Homo sapiens: one gene and its partners. The protein of the gene in region 1 purifies or fractionates together with the protein of each later gene. This does not show direct contact. Each region holds a gene or a part of one and is shown in the gene's direction. Other genes may lie near its edges.

Region 1 (3,500 bases):
ACATGATACTTTAGCTACAGTATATAGAAAGTTGTTTGAGACGTCATACTTAAGCCACAGTTGTTTACCCCTGGAGAAATGAGAGTGTTAAAAAAGATATTAAAATCATTGATTTGTTAAGAAATTATAAGAATCTGAACTATCCTAAAAGTAATCTTTGTAAAATGAACGATAATTCCAGGTTATCTGGGATTTTCTGTAGGTTATCTAAAGGAGTAAATGGAAAAGAAATAAAAAAGATTTTATTTATCAAATAAATTTTTCAAAAAACAGAAATGAAGAGAATAGGAAAAAAGTACATACATACACAAACCTTTTTTTTTTTTTTTTTTTTTTTTTTGAGACAGAGTCTTGCTCTGTCTTCCAGGCTGGAGTGCAGTGGTACTATCCTGGCTCACTGCAGTCTCTACCTCTCTACCTCTTGGGCTCAAGCAATCCTCCCACCTCAGCCTCCAGGGACTACAGGCACATGCCACCATGCCTGGCTAATTTTTTTGTATGTTTTTGTAGAGATGGGGTTTCACCATGTTGCACAGACTGGTCTTGAACTCCTGAGCTCCAGCGATCCACCCTCTTGGGCCTCCCAAAGTGAGCCACCACGCCCAGCCTACTTTAATTCTTTGAACATATTTATAACAGCTGCTTTTTTAAGTCTTTGCTAAATATCTCTCTCAATTTCTTACTGTACTTTTCTTAAGAGCCATGCTTTCCTACTTCTTTACATGTCTAGTAATTTTTGGTGGAAAACTTGATATTTCAGATAATATATTGTAGCAACTATGTATTCTAATTTTTTGGAGAGTTGTTGGATTTGCTTTAATAACTTGGCTATGCAAATACTGATGTCTCTGCTTCATTTTTTATTCTTATATTTATTATTATTATTAAACTTGATTTCCAAAGAGTTACCCCTGTGTCTGCATATAATTTAGTGGTCAGGGCTGGGTGCGGTGGCTCACGCCTGTAATCCCAACACTTTGGGAGTCTGAGGCGGGCGGATCACCTGATGTCAGGAGTTTGTGACCAGCCTGGCCAGCATGTGACACCCTGTCTCTACTAAAAATACAAAAAAAAATTAGCCGGGTGTGGTGGCGGGCACTTGTAATCCCAGCTACTCAGGAGGCTGAGGCAGGAGAATCACTTGAACCCGGGAGGTGGAGGTTGCAGTGAGCGAGATCGTGCCACTGCATTCCATCCTGGGCAACGGAGCGAGACTCCCATCTCAAAATAATAATAATAATTTAGTGGTCACCTAATGATTTGAACAGAGGTTATGCTCAAACATCTTGATCGGGAAAAGCCTCACATTGATTTATATGTGAGTTGGGGAATGTAAATACAAAGTTGCTGCTAGTTTTCAAGTCATCCTTAGCTTTTACTTTTTGCCAGACTATTGGATCTTCCCCCTCCATTTGCATAGTAACCCAGTTAGCCAGGGATGGTAGAGAGCTTATTTCCGCCCTTTTATGGCTCTCTAGTTTCCATGATCTCCCTGTTAAATTTCTGGCTGTCTTTCATGACCAGTCAAAATTCTGGCTGGTTTTCGTGACCAACCCTGAACTAATAAAACCATTCTCATCGACCACGTTGGTGGTAGTAGTGGGTGTGTGAATAACCTCGTGCAAAGAGGCCACTGAGTCCCCCTGCCCTAACCTGAAGCTCTAGCACTTCTTCAACAATAAACGTTTCTTGTTTTCTACATTTGATCCATTTCCAGTACCCTGGAATGGTTGTTTTTCACAATCTCATTCAGGTTTGTACTTGTTTTTTGTGGAGAGGAATTACCAGCCTCTTCATGCCACCATAACTAGTAGTCCTTTTCTATGCTTATATTTGTTTACTCAGCTTCATTATTTACATCTTCTGTATCCATGTTTACTTTTCCCTTAAAGGATCTGTCAGAAACTGAGAGAGATTTTAGTCCTCTACAGTTGTGTTTTTATCAATTGATCCTTTTATTTTAAACAGTCTTGCATTGTGTATTTCTGTGTTCTATTAAAATGTTGTGTATTATACTTTTTGGTTAGTATAAAATGTATTACTTTGCCCAGTTTACAGCCATCAATGCTGTTGTTCTTAAATTTTTTACTCATGCTGGATGTTTGTTTGGATTTCTCTGATGTTATTTTAGGCTGGACTTAAATAATAGTGACACAGTTCATCTGTGTCATCAGTTCCAAGACTACTAGTTTTGGTGATTCACTAGAAAGACTCAGAATACTCAGCACATGTACTCATGGGTAAGATTTGTTACAGTGAAGGACACAAAACAAAATTGGCAAAAGAATAAGGTGCTTGGGGCAAAGTCCAGAGGAAACCACGTGCAAGTTTTCAAAAGTCCTCTCCCAATAGAGTCATGCAAGACTTTTAATTCTCCCAGAAACAAGTTGTCACAATGCTTATAAGTGTTGTCTACCAGGGAAGCTCATTAGAGACTCAGTGACCAGAGTTCTACTGGGGGCTGAGTATGTAGGCATCTTTTGCCTAGTACATACTAAAATTCCAGTCTTCCAGAGGGAAAGCAGGTGTCCAGCATTAACCACATCGTTTGCACAATCTAGACACAGTAAAACCACCATTATTAATTAGGGAACAGTGGGAACACTTCCGAAATCCAAGTTCCCAGATACCAGACAAAGGCCAACCTTGCAAGGAGGTTTTCCTAAGTATAGCAGCATCAGGCCTGCAGTATTAACTTCTTTAATTATTTTCTACACAACATCTTTGTCTTTTTTTTTAAATTGAACTACTCCTGGTGCTTCACTCATGAGTATAATGACCAAAGTTCTTTTGTTGTTTTTTTTGCAGTTAAATGATTTAAAATATTTTTCTCTTAATTTGGGAGTAATATAATTTTATTCAAATATGAAATTAGGGATCATCATTTATAGTTTTTGTTTTTGTTTCAAAAATTCTTTGTTGTTTCTCTAAGCCAAAAATAAAGTGTGTGCTTGTTTTGAAACTCTAATAGACAAAATACTGTACTATGATTTAAATTACATGCTTGGAACAGTTTTATATTTGACTATTCTTTGTATCTCCCACACATCATAATGCCTTTGTTCTTTTCTCAGCACGATTACGTGGTGTTCATGATGGTTTGTTCACTGGACAAATAGATGCTGTGGATACTCTTAATGCTACTTATAGAGTAACTTTTGATAGGACAGGGCTTGGAACCCATACCATCCCTGACTATGAAGTTCTCGTAAGTAGTATTTCATAATACATTTGTGTTTTATGCCTGTTAAATGTGTTATATAGAGTTTTTTTAGAAATCGTATTTTATGATAGAATCAAGACTTTATCTCACAGAGGAAGAGATCCTTAGGGGACCCCAGCCCTATCTGCTAGACCCCTGGTTCGGATCTATACTTAAGTCTTCCATTTGCCAGGAACTAGCATTTCTCTGTTGGACCTTAACGACACAGCACTTTAGTATAACCAAACTGATGAGTCCTGACTAAATAACCTTGGAGAAGAAGCTACATAACATTTTC
Region 2 (3,500 bases), on another chromosome or scaffold:
CTCCTGTCACCCAGGCTGGAGTGCAGTGGCGCTATCTCAGATCACTGCAACCTCTGCCTCCCGGGTTCAAGTGATTCTCCTGCCTCAGCCTCCAAAGTAGCTGGTATTACAGGCACACGCCACCATGCCTGGTTAATTTTGTATTTTTAGTAGAGACAGGGTTTCACCATGTTGGCCAGGCGGTCTTGAACTCCTGACCTCAGTTGATCCACCTGCCTCAACCTCCCAAAGTGCTGGGATTACAGGCGTGAGCCACTGCACCTGGCCCTCATAATTCTTTAAAATGAATATTCATAGAACTCATTTTTCCAGCAGTTGAATTCAAACATCAGTTTACTACTAAGTAGTGCCTTAACTCAACCAGCTTTTACATTTTCACCATTTTATGTTCTTGGGCAACAGGTCTAAACTAATCAGACAACAGGTTGGCTCACAGTACATACTCTGCGAATGCACTTTCTTTGATGAAACACTCGAAGGGGACTCCCATTTTTTGTTTTACTTATTTGAAAAATACTGATTTCATGCCCAGTGCTTTCCATGGCTGTACTAAAACTCTCACAATAGGTTATTTTGAGATAACTAAGAATAGGTCAGTAGTGACTGTTTCATGAATTGAGATGACATGTTAATATTTGTTTTTTTTCTTTGAGATGGAGTCTCGCTCTGTGGCCAGGCTAGAGTGCAGTGGCGCAACCTCAGCTCACTGCAACGTCTGCCTCCTGGGTTCAAGCGATTCTTGTGTCTTAGCCTCCTGAGTAGCTGGGATCACAGGCGCATGCCACCATGCCCAGCTAATTTTTATATTCTTCGTAGATACTGGGTTTCACCATGTTGGCCAGGGTGGTCTTGAACGCCTGACCTCAAGTGATCCACCCTCCTCGGCCTCCCAAAGTGCTGGAATTACAGGCATAAGCCACCACACCCGGCCATGAAATTAGTTCTTCAGAAAAACTTATCTTTGAATGGTAGATATGGCTTATTTCTACCATTTTCACTTTTTTCCTCCTGCTTTATTAGCTAAAATAACACGCAGGCTATGAGACCACTACTTTAGATATAGATGTAATTATTGATTATTATACCACTTAATCTAGTTATAGCGGATGCTCTGTCAGATCTTACCATGTCATTGAATTGTTTTAGGAATTAACTATTTAAAGTTTTGGTTTGGACAGATAGTAGGTTTTAATTGAGCATCTATTATGTGCCAGACACTGTGAGGGATACAGTTCCAAAGAAAACCCACAGTGCGACCAAATAGTTCTCGTATGAAATTTGCAGTGTCTGTAGTCCCACCTACTCGGGATGCTGAGGCACGAGGGTTGCTTGAGCCCAGGAGTTTGAGGTTGCAGTGCTGTGATTATGCCACTGCACTCCAGCCTGGGTATCAAAGCAAGACCCTGTCTCTTAAAAAAAAAAAAAGAATCCCTTCAGAGAAGGAGTTTCGTTCTTGTTGCCCAGGCTGGAGTGCAATGGCGCGATCTTGGCTCACCACATCCTCTCCCTCCTGGGTTCAAGTGATTCTCCTGCCTCAGCTTCCCGAGTAGCTGGGACTACAGGCATGCGCCACCACGCGTGGCTAATTTTGAGTTTTTAGTAGAGACAGGGTTTCTCCATGTTGGTCAGGCTGGTCTTGAACTCCCAACCTCAGGTGATCCACCCACCTCAGCCTCCCAAAGTGCTGGGATTACAGGCATGAGCCACCGCGCCCGGCCAGGTTTTTTTTTTTTTTTAAACATCTGGGGATGATAATGGTACCTATTATTGTTTTGAGAATTGAGGTAATTATATAAATCACTTAGCACCCTGTCCCTGGCTCTTACTAAGCACCCAATACTCAGCAGAGAGGGTGTTTAGTGGGGAAGAGGGAACTATTTAGACAACACTGTGCAATTTGCTATAGTGCTATGGAGTCTTAGGAAGGTGATGAGAAATTATTTTCTTTAATGTGATGGCATATATAGAATAAATTTTGTTTTTGTTTTTGTTTTTTGTTTTTTTGAGACGGAGTCTGGCTCTGTCACCCAGGCTGGAGTGCAGTGGTGCGATCTCAGCTCACTGCAACCTATACCTTCTGGATTCAAGAGATTCTCCTACCTCAGCTTCTCAAGTAGCTGAGATTACAGGCATTCATCACCATGCCTGGCTAATTTTTGTATTTTTAGTGGAGACAGGGTTTCACCATGTTGGCCAGGCTGGTCTCAAACTCCTGACCTCAGGTGATCCACTTGCCTCGGCCTCCCAAAGTGCTAGGATTACAGGCATGAGCCACTGTGCTTGGCCAGAAGAAATTTTTAAAATTGAAACTGATGTAGTTGATAACTTTGTCTAAATTGGCAGTTTACCTGGGCGGTCGACAATTGGGGTAATATGTGCTTTGGGTGACTTTCACTTTGTGGTGACTGTTGCATTCTGCATTGTCCATTATGGGAGGCTCATTAAAAGTTGGAAGAAGGCCGGGCGCGGTGGCTCACGCCTGTAATCCCAGCACTTTGGGAGGCCGAGGCGGGTGGATCATGAGGTCAGGAGATCGAGACCATCCTGGCTAACAAGGTGAAACCCCGTCTCTACTAAAAATACAAAAAATTAGCCGGGCGCGGTGGCGGGCGCCTGTAGTCCCAGCTACTCGGGAGGCTGAGGCAGGAGAATGGCGTGAACCCGGGAAGCGGAGCTTGCAGTGAGCCGAGATTGCGCCACTGCAGTCCGCAGTCCGGCCTGGGCGACAGAGCGAGACTCCGTCTCAAAAAAAAAAAAAAAAAAAAAGTTGGAAGAAATAGGCCAGGCTTGGTGGCTCATGCCTGTAATCCAGCACTTGGGGAGGCTGAGGCAGACGGATCACGAGGTTAGGAGATCGAGATCATCCTGGCTAACACGGTGAAACCCTGTCTCTACGAAAAATACAAAAAATTAGCTGGGCATGGTGGCATGTGCCTGCAATCCCAGCTACTCGGGAAGGCTGAGGCAGGAGAATTGCTTGAACCCGGGAGGCGGAGGTTGCAGTGAGCTGAGATCGCGCCACTGCACTCCAGCCTGGGTGACAATGTGAGACTCTGTCTCAAAAAAAAAAAAAAAGTTGGAAGAAATAATAAACACTTGAAACTTTATGATTATTCAAATGATACATGTTCATTTTAGAATATCTGCAAAATGTAGGCAGGTGGAAATCTAAGTGACACTTTTTAATGCTAAGCTCATGGAATATCTTATTGTATAATACTTAAATCTGCATGTTGAAGGGTGACAGGTTTGGCACAAAGCAGAGTTTCATAATCTTTACCAAATCATCTTCTCAGTAATGTAGCAGTTGGATATTGCCTTGTTGGATGCTGGCCCTGTGTATTATCCTTCATCCTTTTCGGAAGTCAAGCTCTTCAAATTAGATGGCAGATAGTAGAATGGTTTTTTTTTTTTTTTTTTTTTTTGAGCCGGAGTCTTGCCCTGTCTCCCAGGCTGGAGTGCAGTGGCGCAATCTCGGCTCACTGCAACCTCTCCCTCCT
Region 3 (3,500 bases), on another chromosome or scaffold:
AAATTAGATTCAGCGGTCTCAACAGAGGCATAACGTGCCTTTTTCTAAATAAGATGAAAATATTTGTTGAAAGTGTCAGAATTGGGGAGTAAGTATTAATAGTTTTACTGAACCAAGCCCTTTAGAGATTAATTGGCAGTATTAAAACTTTAGAAAATCAGTTTTTAAGGGGGTAGTATATCTGATTCTCTTAGGATGTAGAATTTAGATGTGTATTTAAAAATTTTTTTGATGAATCCGTGGTCACTGCTTAAATTTCTGAGTCCTTATGCTGCAGCTTTTGCTCGAAGTTACAATTTTAAACATGTGGTTTCTGGAACTTTTTTTTCCTTGGCAAAAAGATTTTTAAAAAGGTACACTTTAAAATTCAAATAATGAGATTTTCTGACTACATAGTTCTTGAAATTTGACTATCATATTTGAGTTTATTGGGTTCTGGTTAATGTATCGTACTGGTGTATTTTAATAACTAATGTATATTTTAAATAATTATTTAAAACATTGCAGATTTAAATGTACTCATATTTTCTACTGTCCACTGGTTGATGCCTGTTAAAAATTTAATTTTGTGGAATCTTGGTCAGCCACTTGACTATGATGTTTAAACAGTAGCTGATAATTAAAGCCAAAACTCAAATCAGGTTATTTTATTTTCATCTTAACAGTTACCGACACCGTAGAACAGAGCAAGAGGAGGATGAAGAGCTATTAACAGAAAGCTCCAAAGCAACCAATGTTTGCACTCGATTTGAAGACTCTCCATCGTGTATGTTAAACACACTTGATTTTTTTAAAAAATTGCCCTTTGAGATCTCCTTTGGTTAATGTTTTGGATTTGTGTTGGCTACTATTTGTGAAGCAAATTTTTAGTAGTCTTAGATGTTTATTGGTTATGAAATAAACTTCAGATTTTGATGGAGATGAGAGCATATTACAGGATAGTAGTGCTGTATTTCAAAGTTATATAAAATGTCATTGTGTTTGTTATTGCCCTGAAGTATATGTAAATCTAAGGATCGTTTTGCTTTATATTTGTCCCACATAAGAAAACTAATTTATTTTAAAAAAGGTACTTCATGAACACATTTGCTTACTTCTGATGTTTTTATATTAATTTAATTTTTTGTGAAATGTATTTGTTTATTGGTTAGCTTTTTATCCTCAAGTGTTTTTCAAAAGGAGATGGAGGGCTACACTGTGTACATATTAAAAAAGAAAAATCAGGTGACCGTTATGTATATTTGGTAATTATTCTGGGGAGCAAAATAAGTAGTATACCCTGAAAGAGAGTGCATTGGAATGTATAAGATATATTGGACAAGTAACTTAGGAATTTCCTATTTCTTTTTTTTTTTTTTTTACTAGAAAGAAAATAAAATCCCCAGATAACCTGTATCTGGTCTTTATGAAAGCTGAAAATACTTGGTTAGGAACACTTGGTTTTTCATTAAAAAGACGAGAGGCCAAAGAGTCTCTCAGACCAGTATATGGGTAACGTAAGAACTGAGTTGTTGGAGTGGGTACTCTGATGCCCGCAGTCATGTTTCCCGCACTTGATTATCTTCCATGTCCAGCTTTTCCACTTCAGACCATGGCAGCTACCTCTAGTATTTTGGAACTTGCAGAGTTCCTATTCAAGAATCCGTTAGTAATGAAAATAAAGTCAGTAGATATGTGTAGGCTTAGATGAAGAGATTGCCTTGTATTTCTTGTCTTAAAATGCCTATTGTGCTTTTCTTTTGTTCTTAGATGTAAAATGGGGTAAACTGAGAGATTATCAGGTCCGAGGATTAAACTGGCTCATTTCTTTGTATGAGAATGGCATCAATGGTATCCTTGCAGATGAAATGGTATGTGTTGGTAGTTTTTTTTGAAGGGTATGTTTTGTATTGAAAATATCTTATACGTTGATAAAAGTTTCTTACAGTCTACAACTGTTAGCAAATGGATCCTCTCAGAAACTAGTATAAGCAGCTTGCCTTAGTTGCATAAGTGTGATCTGTATTTTAATTGTGAGAAATTTCCATCGCTGAAAATATGATAAATTTAAAAAGAATACATTTGAGAAACATGTTTTTGGATGACTTTTATAGTACAATGATTTATTTGCTTCCAGTTTTGTAAAACAAAAGTGAGGTCATTAATTGTTTATAATTGATAAATGTTTTTTCCAGGTGGTAGCTTGTACAATTCTTAGAAAACATTTATCTTTTGTTAACTACTAGTTATGTAATGAATGTTTAAAAAAGTTTCCTTATTGCTATAATGCTAAAACGTTTAATTGGTTGGAGAAAGTATGAAGTCAAAAGAAATGTGTTTCAATGCTAGCTCTGCTAGATGACTTTGGGAATGTCACTTAAACGGGGCCTTATGCGGGTGATAATAATACCTCCTTTAGAGACTTGTGAAAATTATATGACATAACACTTACAAACTTTGATATATGTTAAGTTTTTGCCATTTATTAACTGTTATAAATATGTAGCATTTCTTTTGAACATTTCTATATGTTGGGAGGTATAATTGTGAAATAATATTTTCATTTTTCACTGCTTCATGGTTATTTTGAAATCTTTCAGGGCCTAGGAAAGACTCTTCAAACAATTTCTCTTCTTGGGTACATGAAACATTATAGAAACATTCCTGGGCCTCATATGGTTTTGGTTCCTAAGTCTACATTACACAACTGGATGAGTGAATTCAAGAGATGGGTACCAACACTTAGATCTGTTTGTTTGATAGGAGATAAAGAACAAAGAGTAAGTTTCTAGTATTTCATTACATTTTTGAGGCTAAAATAATTTGAATTCAGGCTTGGGTATGGGTATAGCTGGAAGAAGGATAAATGAGACGGGATCTTCGCAAATATTAGTATTTACAAATGTAGCATTGTCTTGGTGGATAAAAAACAGCACTTTGGGAGGCCGAGGCGGGTGGATCATGAGGTCAGGAGATCGAGACCATCCTGGCTAACACAGTGAAACCCCGTTTCTACTAAAAACTCAAAAAATTAGCTGGGTGTGGTGGCACGCATGGCCTGTAGTCCCAGCTACTTGGTAGGCTGAGGCAGGAGAATCGCTGGAATCTGGGAGGTGGAGGTTGCAGTGAGCCGAGATGGCGCCACTGCACTCCAGCCTGGGCAACAAAGCAAGACCATCTTAAAAAAAAAAAATCATACTGGGAAGAAGACATTAGAAATGGTAGAAAGCTGTAAGACTGTAGTTTGTTTCTCTCCCTTTTGGGAGTGGTTGTATAAAATCATTGGTTGTGCTCTCATTAGAAGTTATTTTCTTGTTTTTAAAAGATATTTTGAAATGTGAGTTGGTTGGAAATTTAAGGAGCCACATTTTTAGATGAATGTGTGTAGTGGTAATAGTCACAGAATTAGAGTTTTTAAAGACGGGTTGAGTCATATATAGTAATTTGGTGATTTATTATGATATTTAACAAAATAAGTTAAAATTTCGATCAGTTGACAACATCCTTGTGGGAAGAAGAGA
Region 4 (3,500 bases), on another chromosome or scaffold:
CACACCATACAATTCACCCATTTAAAGTGTACAGTTCAGTGGATTTTGCTACATTCAGAACTGTAGAACCATCACCACCATTTTAGAACATTTTCATCACACCAGAAATAAACCCCTTACCATTAGCAGTTACTACCTAATTCCTCCCAATTCCCCCCTGGTCTCCCCCACCCAGCCCTAGGCAACCACTAATCTACTCTCTCTTAAGATTTGCCTCTTCTGGACATCTCATATAAATGGAATCATATAATATGTCATATTTTGTGCCTGGCTTCTTTCACCCTTATACTACTCTTAAGAATTCGTTTTCACGCCTATAATCCCAGCACCTTGGGAGGCTGAGGCGGGTGGATCACGAGGTCAGGAGATCGAGACCATCCTGGCCAACATGGTGAAACCCCGTCTCTACTAAAAATACAAAAATTAGCCAGGCATGTTGGCACACACCTGTAGTCCCAGCTACCCGGGAGGCTGAGGCAGGAGAATCGCTTGAACCTGGGAGGTGGAGGTTGCAGTGAGCCGAGATCATGTCACTGCACTCCAGCCTGGTGACAGAGTGATGCTCCGTCTCAAAAAAAAAAAAAGAAAAAAGAAAAAAGAAAAATACTGAAATACAGTCAAGGTTCCTCCTGAGATGTGCACCCTTTTTGAGCTATAAAGATATCCACTGCCTCGGGTATATATGTTCAACACCTGCACCCACTCACTAAGGAAGGAACACAAACACACTAAGACAAACTTACAAACTAAGGTAACATATACAGTGATGATAACCCCCTACAAATAAACAGTTTCATATCTGGGCATAACTAAGCATGAACATCATGATAAGTACATACAAGTGAACACAGTTCCTGAAGTGTCTGTGAGAAAGTGAATAAAAACATGGTAAACTAGAAGAAAATGAGGGCTGGGTTTGATATATATATATATAGACTTGTAGGTAAGAAGATTGTTGTATTTCCTTAACCATAGCATAGCAATTCTTTTGAGCAGGATATTATTAGTGATACTTATACAGTAGGGGATTTCCATCCATGTGGAAAATTACAGCCAACAAAATATTTTCATTCCCTGGGTGTGGTGGTAAAACTTTGATGAGGAGTTAAGGAATATTCAGAAGAAGCCCCTCAAATGTATATGAGTCTGGCTTATATTCAGGCAGCCCTTACCCTGAGGCAAACGTGACAAGATATGATACAACCCCCAAGATTTATTTTCATTCATGGTGGGCTATAATTAACCCAGGTTAATACTCTTAGGGAACTATTCTTTTTTTTTTTTTTCCTCTTTAATGTGCCCACTTGAGTGCTAGACCAGCTGAGGAGTTGGGGGTCTAATTTCACTGGAAATAGCAATAAATATGTGATGATTTCAAAGTCATGCCCACCCCACTTTTGTTTTTCTCCTGTTGTCCCTAAGATTTACAGTTTCTTGGTGAAAAATTACAGAACCCTACACAGAAATGGACCAAGGCAGATGTGTAGGATTTCACCTCTGCAAGGCCTTCGGGGCAGGTGGGCTCTTCTGTTAGTCCTCAGCACACCCTCTGTGCTTGCCTTTCCTCTGCCACTTTTCTTGAACCCCCATTATTATTCCTTGTCAAGTCATCTCACTTCCTGCTTTCCTTAGACATTGGCCAGCATTCCAAGTGATATAGTGTGCCCTCCACCAGAGAATAGCTGGCACTGCTTTAAGCCCCTTAGCCTTCCCTCCTACCTCAGAAGAAACTGTTTCCTCTTTTCTTCTCCCACTGCCTGAATCTGGTATAGCACACAAGGGGAGCCTCTGCAGAAATGTTACTTGAACTGGTCCCTGAAAGATGTGAAAGGATTTGAACATGAGAAAGAGTGCAAAAGGACATTTCCTGTGTAATGAACCGTGTGATGTAAGGGCTGCAGGCGGAAGAGCATGGAGGCGTACTTACTTCTGTGTAACACAGGGTGTGTGAAGATCGCTCCTTTCCCTTTACTTTTCTTCTTCTTGCCCTGGATTCCCTCCCAGCTCCAACCTTTTTCAGCCTGTGCTTTGATCTCTTTGTTTAGTATATACTTCTCCACTCCTCTCTGTGTAGCTAATTCTGTCCCTCCCTGACCACCCACAGTGATCTCTGAATTTCTGTACACTAATAGCCAGTACCATTCTTTTGGCAGTTAATTATATATTTTCTTGAAAAAAACAAAAAGCACTTTATGTGCATGTCTCATTTTCCCAAATAGAGTATGTTAGTCAAGGTGTTTAGGTCTCCGGGAACACAAACCCACTTAAGCTATCTTGCTAGATGGTATGGTGGCAGAGCTGGGAGTTGTACTGCATTACTATTGTAAGGCTGCTGAGGTCCGTGAAATGACCTACCACTGGTACCCAGAGCAGACACTTTGAAAGTCTCTGTCCTCTCTCTGCTTGTAGGGCTCTCTTTGGCTTCTTTCTGTGCCTCTGCTCCATTTTAGGACATTAATTTTAATTTTTAAAAAATAGTATGCATTACTGTGTAATTTATCTTGATTGCTGAGCTTTTTTGCACCCTATTAAATACTGAGACACCCTGAGGCAGGTGCCTCCTTTACTTTTTCCCTGTAGCCCCAGCCCTGCTTCATTCTCTTCCCTGCAGACTGACCTTCTGTGCTTTCCCCTTAGCTTCAGCTTCAAGGTGACTAGCTTGTTATGGTAGTGCCTCCAGACTTGGTGATACCTTATGTCTCAACTTGAGTTTTGTCTCCCAGCTTTCCAGATTTCTGGAGAAGAATTGAATTTGATCCGTCCTGGTTAGATTGAGAGTGGTGACCCCTGTACCAAACAGCTGTGAAAGATGTGGCTTTGTTATGTTGTTTCTTTGGCTGTATATTTCACAGGGACTGGAATAAGGGGTGGGTCCCCCCACACAAGGAGGTTTGGGGTTGTTCATCTCAAAACATGCTTATTTTGATGTCAGAAGGAAGTGACCATGCCTTCTCTTTTTTGGTATGTTCCCTGCATCTGGCAGATTGACAGCTAAGAAATAGGTGTATCTCTCTTTTTTTTTTTTTCCATTTTGTTTGAGACTGGGTCTCACTCTGTTGCCTAGGCTGGAGTGCAGGTGTGATCATAGGTCCCTGCAACCTCCGCCTCCCAGGCTCAAGCAATCCTCCCACCTTAGCTGCCCAAGTAGCTGGAACTAAAGGCACGTGCCACCATGCCTGGCTAATTTTTTGTAATTTTTATAGAGATGGGGTCTCTTTATGTTACCCAGGCTAGTCTCAAACTCCTGGGCTCAAGCAGTCCTCCTGCCTTGGCCTCCCAAATTGCTGGGATTACAGAGGTGAGCCACCACACTCAGTCTTCTCTTATTTGGTGTCTATTTATTCCTATGACTTGCCATTTGACCATTAGGATTAACTTTTAGGTATAATAGTCAATTCAGAGCAATTTTTTTTTTCGAGACAGGCTTTCGCTGTCATCCAGGCTGGCGTGCAGGTGTGATCATAGCTCACTGCAGCCTTGAACTCCTGAGCTCAAACAAT
Region 5 (3,500 bases), on another chromosome or scaffold:
GTGCTTCTTCAGTATAGCCCCTTTTCCCCATTCCCTCCTAACCTCCTTTCCTGGACTAAGTTATGACAGTATATTGCCTTCAGAGTCTCTCCTCTCCATGCCCAAGTAAGGATCACTGTCAGATTAATCTTAAAATGCACAGATTTAGTCACTTAGCTTCCCTGTCCAGGAAAACCTTCAGTTTACTCACCATTTCTCATCTTTCAAGCATAAGAAAACCTTGCCTTTTGTCTTTCTAACTTTATAGTTTTTTTTTCTCCCATTAGATTCCTTTAGTTTTCAAATCCTTCAACCAAACTGGATTGTTTATTGTTTCTTAACCACACAGGATGTGTTTATTGCCACATGTCTACCCGTGCTTCCCTGTTGTATTGTTCTTTCTCTTTACTTGTCCATTTCCTCCCCATCTGTAACAGTCTGGGTCCAGTTAGGAGTTAGATACCATACATAGGTGAAATGGGAAATGTAATATAAAGAATTATTAACTATGATAAAAATGCAACTAAAAGATATACAGAAACTTTATAGATAGGGCTGAGGAAGGACCAACGTAGAAGAGGTTCAGAGCTTGCTGGAAGAGATGATATATTAAATACCTAAGAATATATCTAACTTAATAAGGGCAAGATCCTATATAGAAGACTATAAAGTGGAAATACAATTTAAAAACTCAATAAATAAAAGGATATAAGATTTATTATTACAATAATAAAAACTGTAAGGATGTCATTTGTCCTCTAAATCTCCATTGTCACAGAGCCAGCAATGCAGAGTGAATGTGGAACTGAGCAGCAGTAAATTGGTAACCGGCGTGCTTACCTGCGCACATGCCCTGACGCGTCCCTCTGTATTCTCTGTATCCTCTGTCATTGTGCTTTCATGCAGCATTATAATTTTTTCTATGCTGTCTGTTTATCCCACTTAGATTATGAACTCCTTGAAGGCAAGTACTATCTCTTCTTTATCTATATCTGCGGCCCTAGCCCAGTGCCTGGCACATAATACATTTAACACATGAATAAAAAAATGAATGAATGAAGGTGCTTTGAAAAAATCATGCAATGAAATCAAAATTTATCATTATCATTATTAGCTTCCAGTGTTCTAGTAATAGAGGAAATATGCTAATAGTTTCCAAGATGCCCATTGTTTATCAAGAATACAAGAGGTGGTTACTTTTCTTTGATTAACAGTGTTTGCTGACTGTACTTTCTCACCTTCTGTTCCCCCTTCAGGCTGCTTCCTGGCTTCCGCCTACGCTGCTCTCCTGAGTGTGTTCCTCCTGAGGTCATGAAATGACCTCTTGGTTGCCAAAGTCAATATACACTTTCAATTCTATCTTACTTGAATTTGGCATTGGTTCTGATGCTGGTAGCCACATCCACCTTGAAACTCCTCCCTTGGTTTCTGTGACCTGCTTTCTCCTGTTAACCTGTCTATTTCTCTGACCTGTCTATCTCTGACCTCTCTATATCTTCTCTATGGGCTCCTCATTCTCTGTCTTTTAAACAGTGTTCTGCTGCCTCAGTCCTCTTCTTAGTCTTCAAGTTCCTTTTGAACTGACATCCATGAGTGTCTCTACCTTCTGCATCTTGATGCTTCCCAAATCTGTATCTCCAACCCAAACCTTTTCACTCATTCTCCACACACTTGTCTAAGCACTACTGGACATCTCTCCTGGGAGAGTGTTCTTTTAGGGGTACCATTCTCATGGAATGTGGTGTGATTGGTCCCCCCGGAATGCAACTTCTGCATGTGTGTGTCTCATAGACACTTCAGATTTACCAAGCCTAAAATGGATCTTGTCCTTAGTTTCATATCTCACAGTTAATGCATCATCATCTCACATTTTCCCCTTTCTGTCATTAGTCTTCACTTTCCTTACCACTCCAAACTTGTTATTCCTTATTCCCGAATTCTTGAGTTTATTCCCTTTCTGTAGTAAGTTTGTGCATTTGTATCAGCCTCTACTCTAAGACAGAAATACCATCACCTTACTTCTCCGGTCACAATATTTACTGGCTTCCTATTACTTAACTGCAGGATGAAATTTAAACCCTAAGCGTGATTTATGAGACCCCTTTATTATTTCTCCCTTGCCTATCTCTGTTGCCTCCTGTCTTACCTTTTCTTCATTATTCTATATGGTCCCCTCCCCATGGCCCCCACAAGTGACACATGACTCTTAGCCCATCCCACATTTGGTTATGCCTTTGCCCACACAGTTTCCTGGGGCAGCAGTGTCTTCCTTTTTCTCCCTACTCATGCATACAAGCTACCTAATAAACACTTATTCCTTCTTCAGAGTGCCAGATGTCTATTCTCACCATCATGGATTCTTTGGTGCACCTTTGTGTTTCTATTGTATATTTTACATATTATTTGTCTCAGGACAATGTAATTGTTTCCATCTTTCTCTTCACTAGTATAATATCTTTATGGGCAGGGACTTACATTTTTATTTTTTTTTATCCCCAGAGTTTAGTATAATATCTGGTACTACGTATTTATTATTTCTCAATAAATATTTGAGAAAGGAATGAACCTTTCTTTGGTAATATGAGTATTTTTATTTGCAAAAAAAAAAAGTAAAGTGTGGTATGCCATATTTAGTAGAGATGTTAATTCTGAAATGATTATTATTTAATGTCCATTGAACTACTAGTTTTATATGACTACTTGAGAACTAAGTATAGTTAACGGTATTAATCATCAGATAACATTGCTGTATGAACCATAAGATTTTGGTATGTTTTGCAGATCAAGGATCTGGATTTTGCATAACTGGTAAAATAGAAGCTGGTTATATCCAAACTGGTGACCGACTACTGGCAATGCCTCCTAATGAAACTTGTACCGTGAAAGGTATTTATCTGCAAGATGCTTTTGCTAAACAAGCCTTAAGTTGAGACAGCAGATTTTTAAAAAGTGGTTTAGTTACAACTCCAAAGTAAGTAACCTCTTACTGAAATTGTAACTGACTGTCAAAATGATACTGACTGTTGAAGATTAAAATGTGAAAACATTAAACGATTTTTTTCTGTTGTGATTGTGTCTGTATATATATGTACATAAACATTCTAACTGTAGTAGCATTCTATTTTTGACACAGATCTGAGAAGCCTGGTTAGGATTTAATCAGATATGTATAGATACCTCACAGATGTATTTGGAATAATATTCTGTAGCAGAAATTAAATCTAGTCCCAGCCTTACCCTAACTAGTCAGTGGCAAAGCAGCCTTCTACAGTCTGTTACTTTGAAATGTATGTTTCAGAATAACTATAAATTAACAGCTTTGATCATGTTTATGCCAAAAATGTAGGTATATTTTATAGGAAGATATAAGTAACATTCAAATGGAGAAAAACCCAATGTTGAAAAGAGAAATTGAACTAGTTTAAATTGCCAGTCACTGTTTCTGCATATAGATCTAATTTTTTTCATAATGACTGATAATTGTTTCTGTCTTCTAATATATACACACATATATATATTTA
Region 6 (3,500 bases), about 220 Mb from region 1:
AGGCCCTCTCTGTCCTTTCCCGGGCCTGGCCCAGGCCTGACTAGGAGGTGGGCGATGGTTGAAGATCAGCCAGGAGTTCCCCTGGGGTCCTGCCAGCCCTCTCAGAGGGTTCTTGCCGGCCCCCCACTCCCTGAGCCCCAGTCCCCCCCCCCCACCCCAGAGCCTATGTGTCCCTCTTCATGCGGCACCTGTGTGAGCCGGGGGCGGATGGTGCAGAGACCTTCGCAGACGGCGTGCCCCGGGAGGGCCTCTCCAGGCAGCACGTGCTGACCCGCATCGGGGTCATGTCACTAGTTAGGAAGAAGGTGGGTGAGTAACTCTCTGTAGGGCCCTTCCTGGTGGCTGCCTGGGCTCCTGGTGCTGTCCCTTGTGGGTCAGTGGTCAGAGAACAAGTGCCTGGTTCAGGCCACACAGCTGCCCAGGGTCCGAGTCACTCCAGAGGGACTGACCTGGAAAGCCTTTCTGGGTGAGGGGCCTGTGGGGTGGAGGCCAGGATGGTGGGTTACATACAGTTGGAGGACACACAGAGGGTGGGAGGGTGGGCAGGGGAGCTTGTGGTCAGGAGGGGCCTGGCTTGGCCAGCCTTGGGCGGAGGTAGCAGCTACCCCAAGCCTGTGACACTTTCAGCCCCCCTGGCTGCCCTGAGGCCCTTAGGGCTGAGTTGCCACCACTGCCCTCCCTCTTTCCCTTCCACCTTCCCTCCCACCACCCCAGGTTCAGGAGTTTGAGCATGTCAACGGGAAGTACAGCACCCCAGACTTGATCCCTGAGGGGCCCGAGGGGAAGAAGTCGGGCGAGGTGATCTCCTCGGACCCCAACACACCAGTGCCCGCCAGCCCTGCCCACCTCCTGCCAGCCCCGCTGGGCCTGCCAGGTCTGTGGGCTGGGCGGGCCGGGGAGGGCACTGGGGTCATGGAAAGTGGCAAGGTCACAGAAACCCCTAGTCTAACCCACAATCCCACAGAAGACGGCCTCTCCTTCCCCCAAAGCCTCTGTTTGCTGAAATGTCACTCTACAGAGAGTTTTCCATTTTAATGACAGTTACGAGATATAATTTATATACATACTGCAAAATTCACTCTTTTAAAAAACTGGCTGGGCGCGGTGGCTCACACCTGTTAATCACAGCACTTTAGGAGGCTGAGGCGGCAGGATCACCTGAGCTCAGGAGTTTGAGACCAACCTGGCCAACATGGTGAAACCCCGTCTCTACTAAAAATACAAAAGATTAGCCGGGCATGGTGGCACGTGCCTGTAATCCCGGCTGCTCGGGAGGCTGAGGCAGGAGAATCGCTTGAACCTGGGAAGCGGAGGTTGCAGTGAGCCAAGATCACACCACTGCACTCCAGCCTGGGGGGACAAAGCAAGACTCCATCTCAAAAAAAAAAAAGTACTATTCAGTGATTTCTAGTATATTCGTAGGGTGTACAACCATCGCCACTGCCTAAGGCCGGAATATTTTCATTCCCCCTGAAAAAGAAACCCTGTACCCATTAGCAGCCACTCCTTATCCCCCCACCCCAGGCCTGGGCAGCCACTAACCTGCTTCCTGTTTCTGGATTTCGCAATGCTGGATGGTTCGTGTATATGGCACTGCACAGTGCGTGGGCCTTTCTGTCTGGCTTCTGTCACTCAGCCTGGGGGTTCCAGGTTCATCCACATTGCAGCGTGCATCAGTGCTTCAGTCATTCTGTCATTCTGCCTTATGGCTGATAATGTTTTCTTTTTCTTTCTTTCTTCCTTTTTTTTTTTTTGAGATGGAGTTTCGCTCTTGTTGCCCAGGCTGGAGTGCGATGGAGTGATCTCGGCTCACTGCAACCTCCGCCTCCCAGGTTCAAGCGATCCTGCCTCAGCTTCCCGAGTAGCTGGGATTACAGGTGCCCGCCACCACACCTGGCTGATTTTTGTATTTTTAGTAGAGACGGGGTTTCGCCATGTTGGCCAGGCTGGTCTTGAATTCCTGACCTCAGGTGATCCACCCTCCTCGGCCTCCCAACGTGCTGGGATTATAGGCGTGAGCCACCGCGCCTGGCCGATAACGTTTTCTTGTATGAATTTACTGCATTTTGCTTATCCATTGCGCTGTCGATAGATTTTGGATTGTTTCTACTTTTTGGCTGCTGTGAATAATGCTGCTGTGTTTTATGTTTTTGCGTGGACATACGTTTTGAGTTCTTTTGGGCAGATATCTAGGAATGGAATTGCTGGGCCGTGTGATAACCCTGTTTTCCCTTTTGAGAAACTACTAGACTGTTTTCCAAAGCAGCTGTACCATTTTACATTCCTGCTAGTATTGTGCGGGAGTCCCAGGTTCTCCACGTCTTCAGCAGTAATTGTTCTCTGCCTTCATGGTTCTAGCTGTCCTGGGAGCATGAGGTGGTGTCTCACTGTGGTTCTGATTGGCATTTCCCTGATGCCAAGGACGCTGAATGTTGTTCGGTGTGCGTATTGGCTGTTTGTAGACTTGTAGAAATGTCTTTTCAGATTCTTTGCACACTTAATTGGGTCATTTGTGCCCGTGTCACTTTGGTGATCTAGGTATTTATTTGGGTGAAGCAAATACCTGTTAAGTACTTGGTCCGTCGGTTGGGCCTCACAGGCCTGGGGCGGACATAGCTATCCCATGGTGATGGGTGAGGCCAGGCCCTGAGAAGCTGCACCTCCAAGCACAAGGGAGCCCTTGGAGGTGGACACATCTTGGTTTGCTTCTTGGCTTTGGCCTGAACTCTGTCTAACCTTGGGCAAGTCACCTAACCTCTGTGGGCCTCCGCTTTCCCGGCTGTGCCCACCTCCCGGGGCTTCTCAGAGCTGTGTAAGTGACCAGCACTTTGCAGTGTGTTGGCGGCTGGCTTGGCAGGGAGGAAATTCACCCCCTGTCCAGAGGCACACACCAGCCAGCCCGCCCGAAAGCTGGGACCAGAGCGGGTGTCGTGGCTCCCAATCTGGGCCTCCATCTGCCTCACTTCCCTGCCTCCAGATGAGCAGCCACGGCTGTGTGCGGCCCCGTCCTGACAGCCCCTCACTTTGGTCTTACTGGGTTCAAGGTCCTCCAAGCACTCCTGAGTCAAAGGCCTGGCCTGGCCTCTCTGACTTAGCCGGGGATCCTGCTTGTCTCTCCTGGAGGTGCTTGGCTGCAGTGGAGCCTCCCGAAGGCCAAGCCCCCATCTCTCCTCTCTGCCACCCCACTCCCTGCCCTACTCCTTCCCGTCTGAGCCCACCTGTCTCAGCTCTTTCCCTTGATCTTTCAGACAAAATGGAAGCCCAGCTGGGCTACATGGATGAGAAAGACCCCGGGGCACAGAAGCCAAGGCAGCCCCTGGAAGTCCAGGTGTGGAACTTGCTGGCGTCTGGGCCTGTGGTGTGTGTGGGGTGGAGGTTGGGTCTGGGGACCTTCTCAGGCCCTGTACAGCGAGGTGGAACCCAGGCCTCCTGGCTCCCTTTTCGGGGCTCTGAATCGGCGGGGAGCAGGCTAGGAGCAAGCGACGGGAGCCAGGAGACTG
Region 7 (2,831 bases), on another chromosome or scaffold:
GAAATGCAAGTAAGACATGTGTAATACTTTTCCTGTACCCAAGGTGAACATGACCCAAATTTGCTGATCTCTAATTTCATGAACTATAAATGGGTTTCATTTTATAAAATAATTCATTTTCTAAGACATTTTTGAGGAGATAATACTAGATGGTTAAGTTCCCACAAAAAGTAATTTAATTTCATAGTAGAGAACAATTTTTATATTAATAGTTTTACAGAATCTCACATTTGAATGAATATGAATTTCGTTTCTTTGGGGAATGCCAGGGGAGTGTTAAAATGCTTTGGAGTTGTGCTTCTTACAGGCAGCACAGCATTCTCAGAAGCAGTCTACTGAGCTCTTCCAGTGCATGTACTTCAAAGACAAAGACCCTGCCACCGAGGAGCGTTGCATATCTGACGGAGTTATTTATTCAATTAGAACAAATGGTGTGCTTCTATTTATACCAAGGTATGTTACATCTAATGCAATGGTGCATAAGAAATCATAGTTAAAAGTGTAGAACACAAACTGTACATTAGATATAATTTATTAAAATATTTAAGCAACTAGTTATCATATGTACATAATGTAATGTATAATTCAGTATATAAATGTGAAGATTGGAGGCCAGGGGTGGCTCACGCCTATAATCCCAGCACTTTGGGAGGCCAAGGTGGGCGGATCACCTGAGGTCAGGAGTTCGAGACCAGCCTGGCCAACATGGTGAAACCCCGTCTCTACTAAAAGTACAAAAATTAGCCGGGCATGGTGACGCATGCCTGAAATCCCAGCTACCTGGGAGGCTGAGGCAGGAGAATCACTTGAACCCGGGAAGCAGAGGTTGCAGTGAGCCAAGATCGTGCCACTGCACTCCAGCCTGGGCGACAGAGCAAGACTCTGTCTCAAAAAAAAAAAAAAAAAGTGAAGACTGGAGTGTGTGTGTGTGTGTGTGTGTGTGTGTGTATATATATACACACACACTTCTATATCCATTTTAGGGTCTTTCTTATCCAGCAAAATACTTTGTTTCCATCTGCTAAGGTGAAATAAATACGTGGAGGTAAACCACAGGAAAAGTGATTTGTTTTTAATCTAGGAGAAAAACTAGTATTCTAGATAAGCATACAAGATCTGTGTACTAAGAATACATTGTCTCTGGATTTATATTCTGGTCATAATATAGGTTTGGGATTAAAGGTGCTGCTTATCTAAAAAATAAAGATGGTTTAGTCATCTCATGTGGCCCAGATAGCTGTTCTGAATGGAAACCAGGATCCCTTCAACGATTTCAAAACAAAATTACCTCTACTACAACAGATGGGGAATCTGTTACGTTCCATTTGTTTGACCATGTAACCGTAAGTCTGTGTTTCTATTAAGTATTATTAATATTTTAAATGTAAGGAATAAATAATGTGATTTAGTAATATGTATTTTCTTCTCTATGCTAGGTAAGAATATCCATACAGGCCTCACGTTGCCATTCTGATACAATCAGACTTGAAATAATTAGTAACAAACCATACAAGATACCAAATACAGAACTTATTCATCAGAGTTCCCCCTTGCTGAAGAGTGAGTTAGTGAAAGAAGTAACTAAATCTGTGGAAGAAGCTCAGCTTGCCCAAGAAGTCAAAGTAAACATCATTCAGGAGGAATATCAAGAATATCGCCAAACAAAGGGAAGGAGCCTATACACACTTCTAGAGGAGATACGGGACCTAGCTCTCCTGGATGTTTCAAACAATTATGGAATATGAGAGGCTCTTACTTCACTAAGAGCTGTCATATGTGAATGTTTTACAGTCTTTTCAAACTTAACATTTAATGTGTGTCACTCAGTGCTCTAGTCGATCAGGACTGGGTAGCTATTTCGCATATATGTAAAATGTTCTCAGCCGGGCACGGTGGCTCACGCCTGTAACCCCAGCACTTTGGGAGGCTGAGGCGGGCGGATCACGAGGTCAGGAGATTGAGACCATCCTGGCTAACACGGTGAAACCCAGTCTCTACTAAAAATACAAAAATTAGCCCGGCGTGGTGGCATGCGCCTGTAGTCCCAGCTACTTGGGAGGCTGAAGCAGGAGAATTGCCTGAACCCAGGAAGAGGAGGTTGCAGTGAGCCGAGATCGCACCACTGCATTCCAGCCTGGGCAACAGAGCGAGACTCCATCTCAAAAAAAAAAAAAAAAAAAAAAAAAGTTCTCTCATTCATTAAAGTTGCATTAAATAAAGTATAATTAGGTCACTATGGAAACAGAGTTTTCAGTAATGAGTGGACAGTAAGTGGTGGCTCTGCAGATGGCCCCTTTCTAATAAGTTTAATAAACCCGAAATTACTGGTTATCTCGTCTCCAATCAGTTCTTTCAAATGTTTTATTTTTCCAGTAATTACGTTTGGGTCATAGGCCCCTCTGACATTTGTCAGGTAATTTTCAGTCACTTTCAGATAATAAGACTTAGTCCTGAGTCCACTTCTCCACTTAAAAATTCCTATTTCATATTTGACTCAACCCTTACCTGCTGTCTCCAGTACTAGCTGGGATTAGGACACAGGGCGGGTGGTAGGATGCACAGGTAAAGTTCTGTCACAGGCCTTCCTTCCCACTCTCCCATTTTGATGAGGTGCATTGGCCTTCCCCTTGTTGGAAACTTGTTACTTTGCCAGCAAACACCCCACTAGAAAAATTAACTCTAGGCCGAGCGCAGTGGCTCACGCCTATAATCCCAGCACTTTGGGAGTCCGAGGCGGGTGGATCACAAGGTCAGGAGTTCAAGACCAGCCTGGCCAAGATGATTAAACCCCATCTCTACTAAAAATACAAAAATTGGCCAGGGACAGTAGC

What was found.
Region 2: the proteins of LIN9 (region 1) and SLMAP purify together in Homo sapiens (affinity purification with mass spectrometry; 2 studies listed by BioGRID and IntAct, with this or other methods). This does not show direct contact.
Region 3: the proteins of LIN9 (region 1) and SMARCA5 purify together in Homo sapiens (affinity purification with mass spectrometry, with the first as the bait; one large-scale study listed by BioGRID). This does not show direct contact.
Region 4: the proteins of LIN9 (region 1) and TMOD3 purify together in Homo sapiens (co-immunoprecipitation; one large-scale study listed by IntAct). This does not show direct contact.
Region 5: the proteins of LIN9 (region 1) and HBS1L purify together in Homo sapiens (affinity purification with mass spectrometry; 2 studies listed by BioGRID and IntAct, with this or other methods). This does not show direct contact.
Region 6: the proteins of LIN9 (region 1) and CHD5 purify together in Homo sapiens (affinity purification with mass spectrometry, with the first as the bait; one large-scale study listed by BioGRID). This does not show direct contact.
Region 7: the proteins of LIN9 (region 1) and DIS3L purify together in Homo sapiens (affinity purification with mass spectrometry; 2 studies listed by BioGRID and IntAct, with this or other methods). This does not show direct contact.

What each region holds. Positions count from the first base shown.
Region 1 is NC_000001.11:226,267,665-226,271,164, reverse strand, and holds part of LIN9 (protein lin-9 homolog), read left to right. Parts: intron 1-3,074; coding exon 3,075-3,208; intron 3,209-3,500. UniProt on the Homo sapiens protein: Acts as a tumor suppressor. Inhibits DNA synthesis. Its ability to inhibit oncogenic transformation is mediated through its association with RB1. Plays a role in the expression of genes required for the G1/S transition.
Region 2 is NC_000003.12:57,759,309-57,762,808, forward strand, and holds part of SLMAP (sarcolemmal membrane-associated protein), read left to right. Parts: intron 1-3,500. UniProt on the Homo sapiens protein: Associates with the striatin-interacting phosphatase and kinase (STRIPAK) core complex, forming the extended (SIKE1:SLMAP)STRIPAK complex.
Region 3 is NC_000004.12:143,523,702-143,527,201, forward strand, and holds part of SMARCA5 (SWI/SNF-related matrix-associated actin-dependent regulator of chromatin subfamily A member 5), read left to right. Parts: intron 1-665; coding exon 666-766; intron 767-1,749; coding exon 1,750-1,850; intron 1,851-2,579; coding exon 2,580-2,759; intron 2,760-3,500. UniProt on the Homo sapiens protein: ATPase that possesses intrinsic ATP-dependent nucleosome-remodeling activity.
Region 4 is NC_000015.10:51,836,153-51,839,652, forward strand, and holds part of TMOD3 (tropomodulin-3), read left to right. Parts: intron 1-3,500. UniProt on the Homo sapiens protein: Blocks the elongation and depolymerization of the actin filaments at the pointed end. The Tmod/TM complex contributes to the formation of the short actin protofilament, which in turn defines the geometry of the membrane skeleton.
Region 5 is NC_000006.12:134,981,823-134,985,322, reverse strand, and holds part of HBS1L (HBS1-like protein), read left to right. Parts: intron 1-2,760; coding exon 2,761-2,865; intron 2,866-3,500. UniProt on the Homo sapiens protein: GTPase component of the Pelota-HBS1L complex, a complex that recognizes stalled ribosomes and triggers the No-Go Decay (NGD) pathway.
Region 6 is NC_000001.11:6,121,322-6,124,821, reverse strand, and holds part of CHD5 (chromodomain-helicase-DNA-binding protein 5), read left to right. Parts: intron 1-160; coding exon 161-305; intron 306-714; coding exon 715-874; intron 875-3,248; coding exon 3,249-3,328; intron 3,329-3,500. UniProt on the Homo sapiens protein: ATP-dependent chromatin-remodeling factor that binds DNA through histones and regulates gene transcription. May specifically recognize and bind trimethylated 'Lys-27' (H3K27me3) and non-methylated 'Lys-4' of histone H3.
Region 7 is NC_000015.10:66,331,568-66,334,398, forward strand, and holds the end of DIS3L (DIS3-like exonuclease 1), read left to right. Parts: exon of another isoform or gene 1-301; intron 302-307; coding exon 308-453; intron 454-1,168; coding exon 1,169-1,343; intron 1,344-1,436; coding exon 1,437-1,745; 3' UTR 1,746-2,331; downstream 2,332-2,831. UniProt on the Homo sapiens protein: Catalytic component of the RNA exosome complex which has 3'->5' exoribonuclease activity and participates in a multitude of cellular RNA processing and degradation events.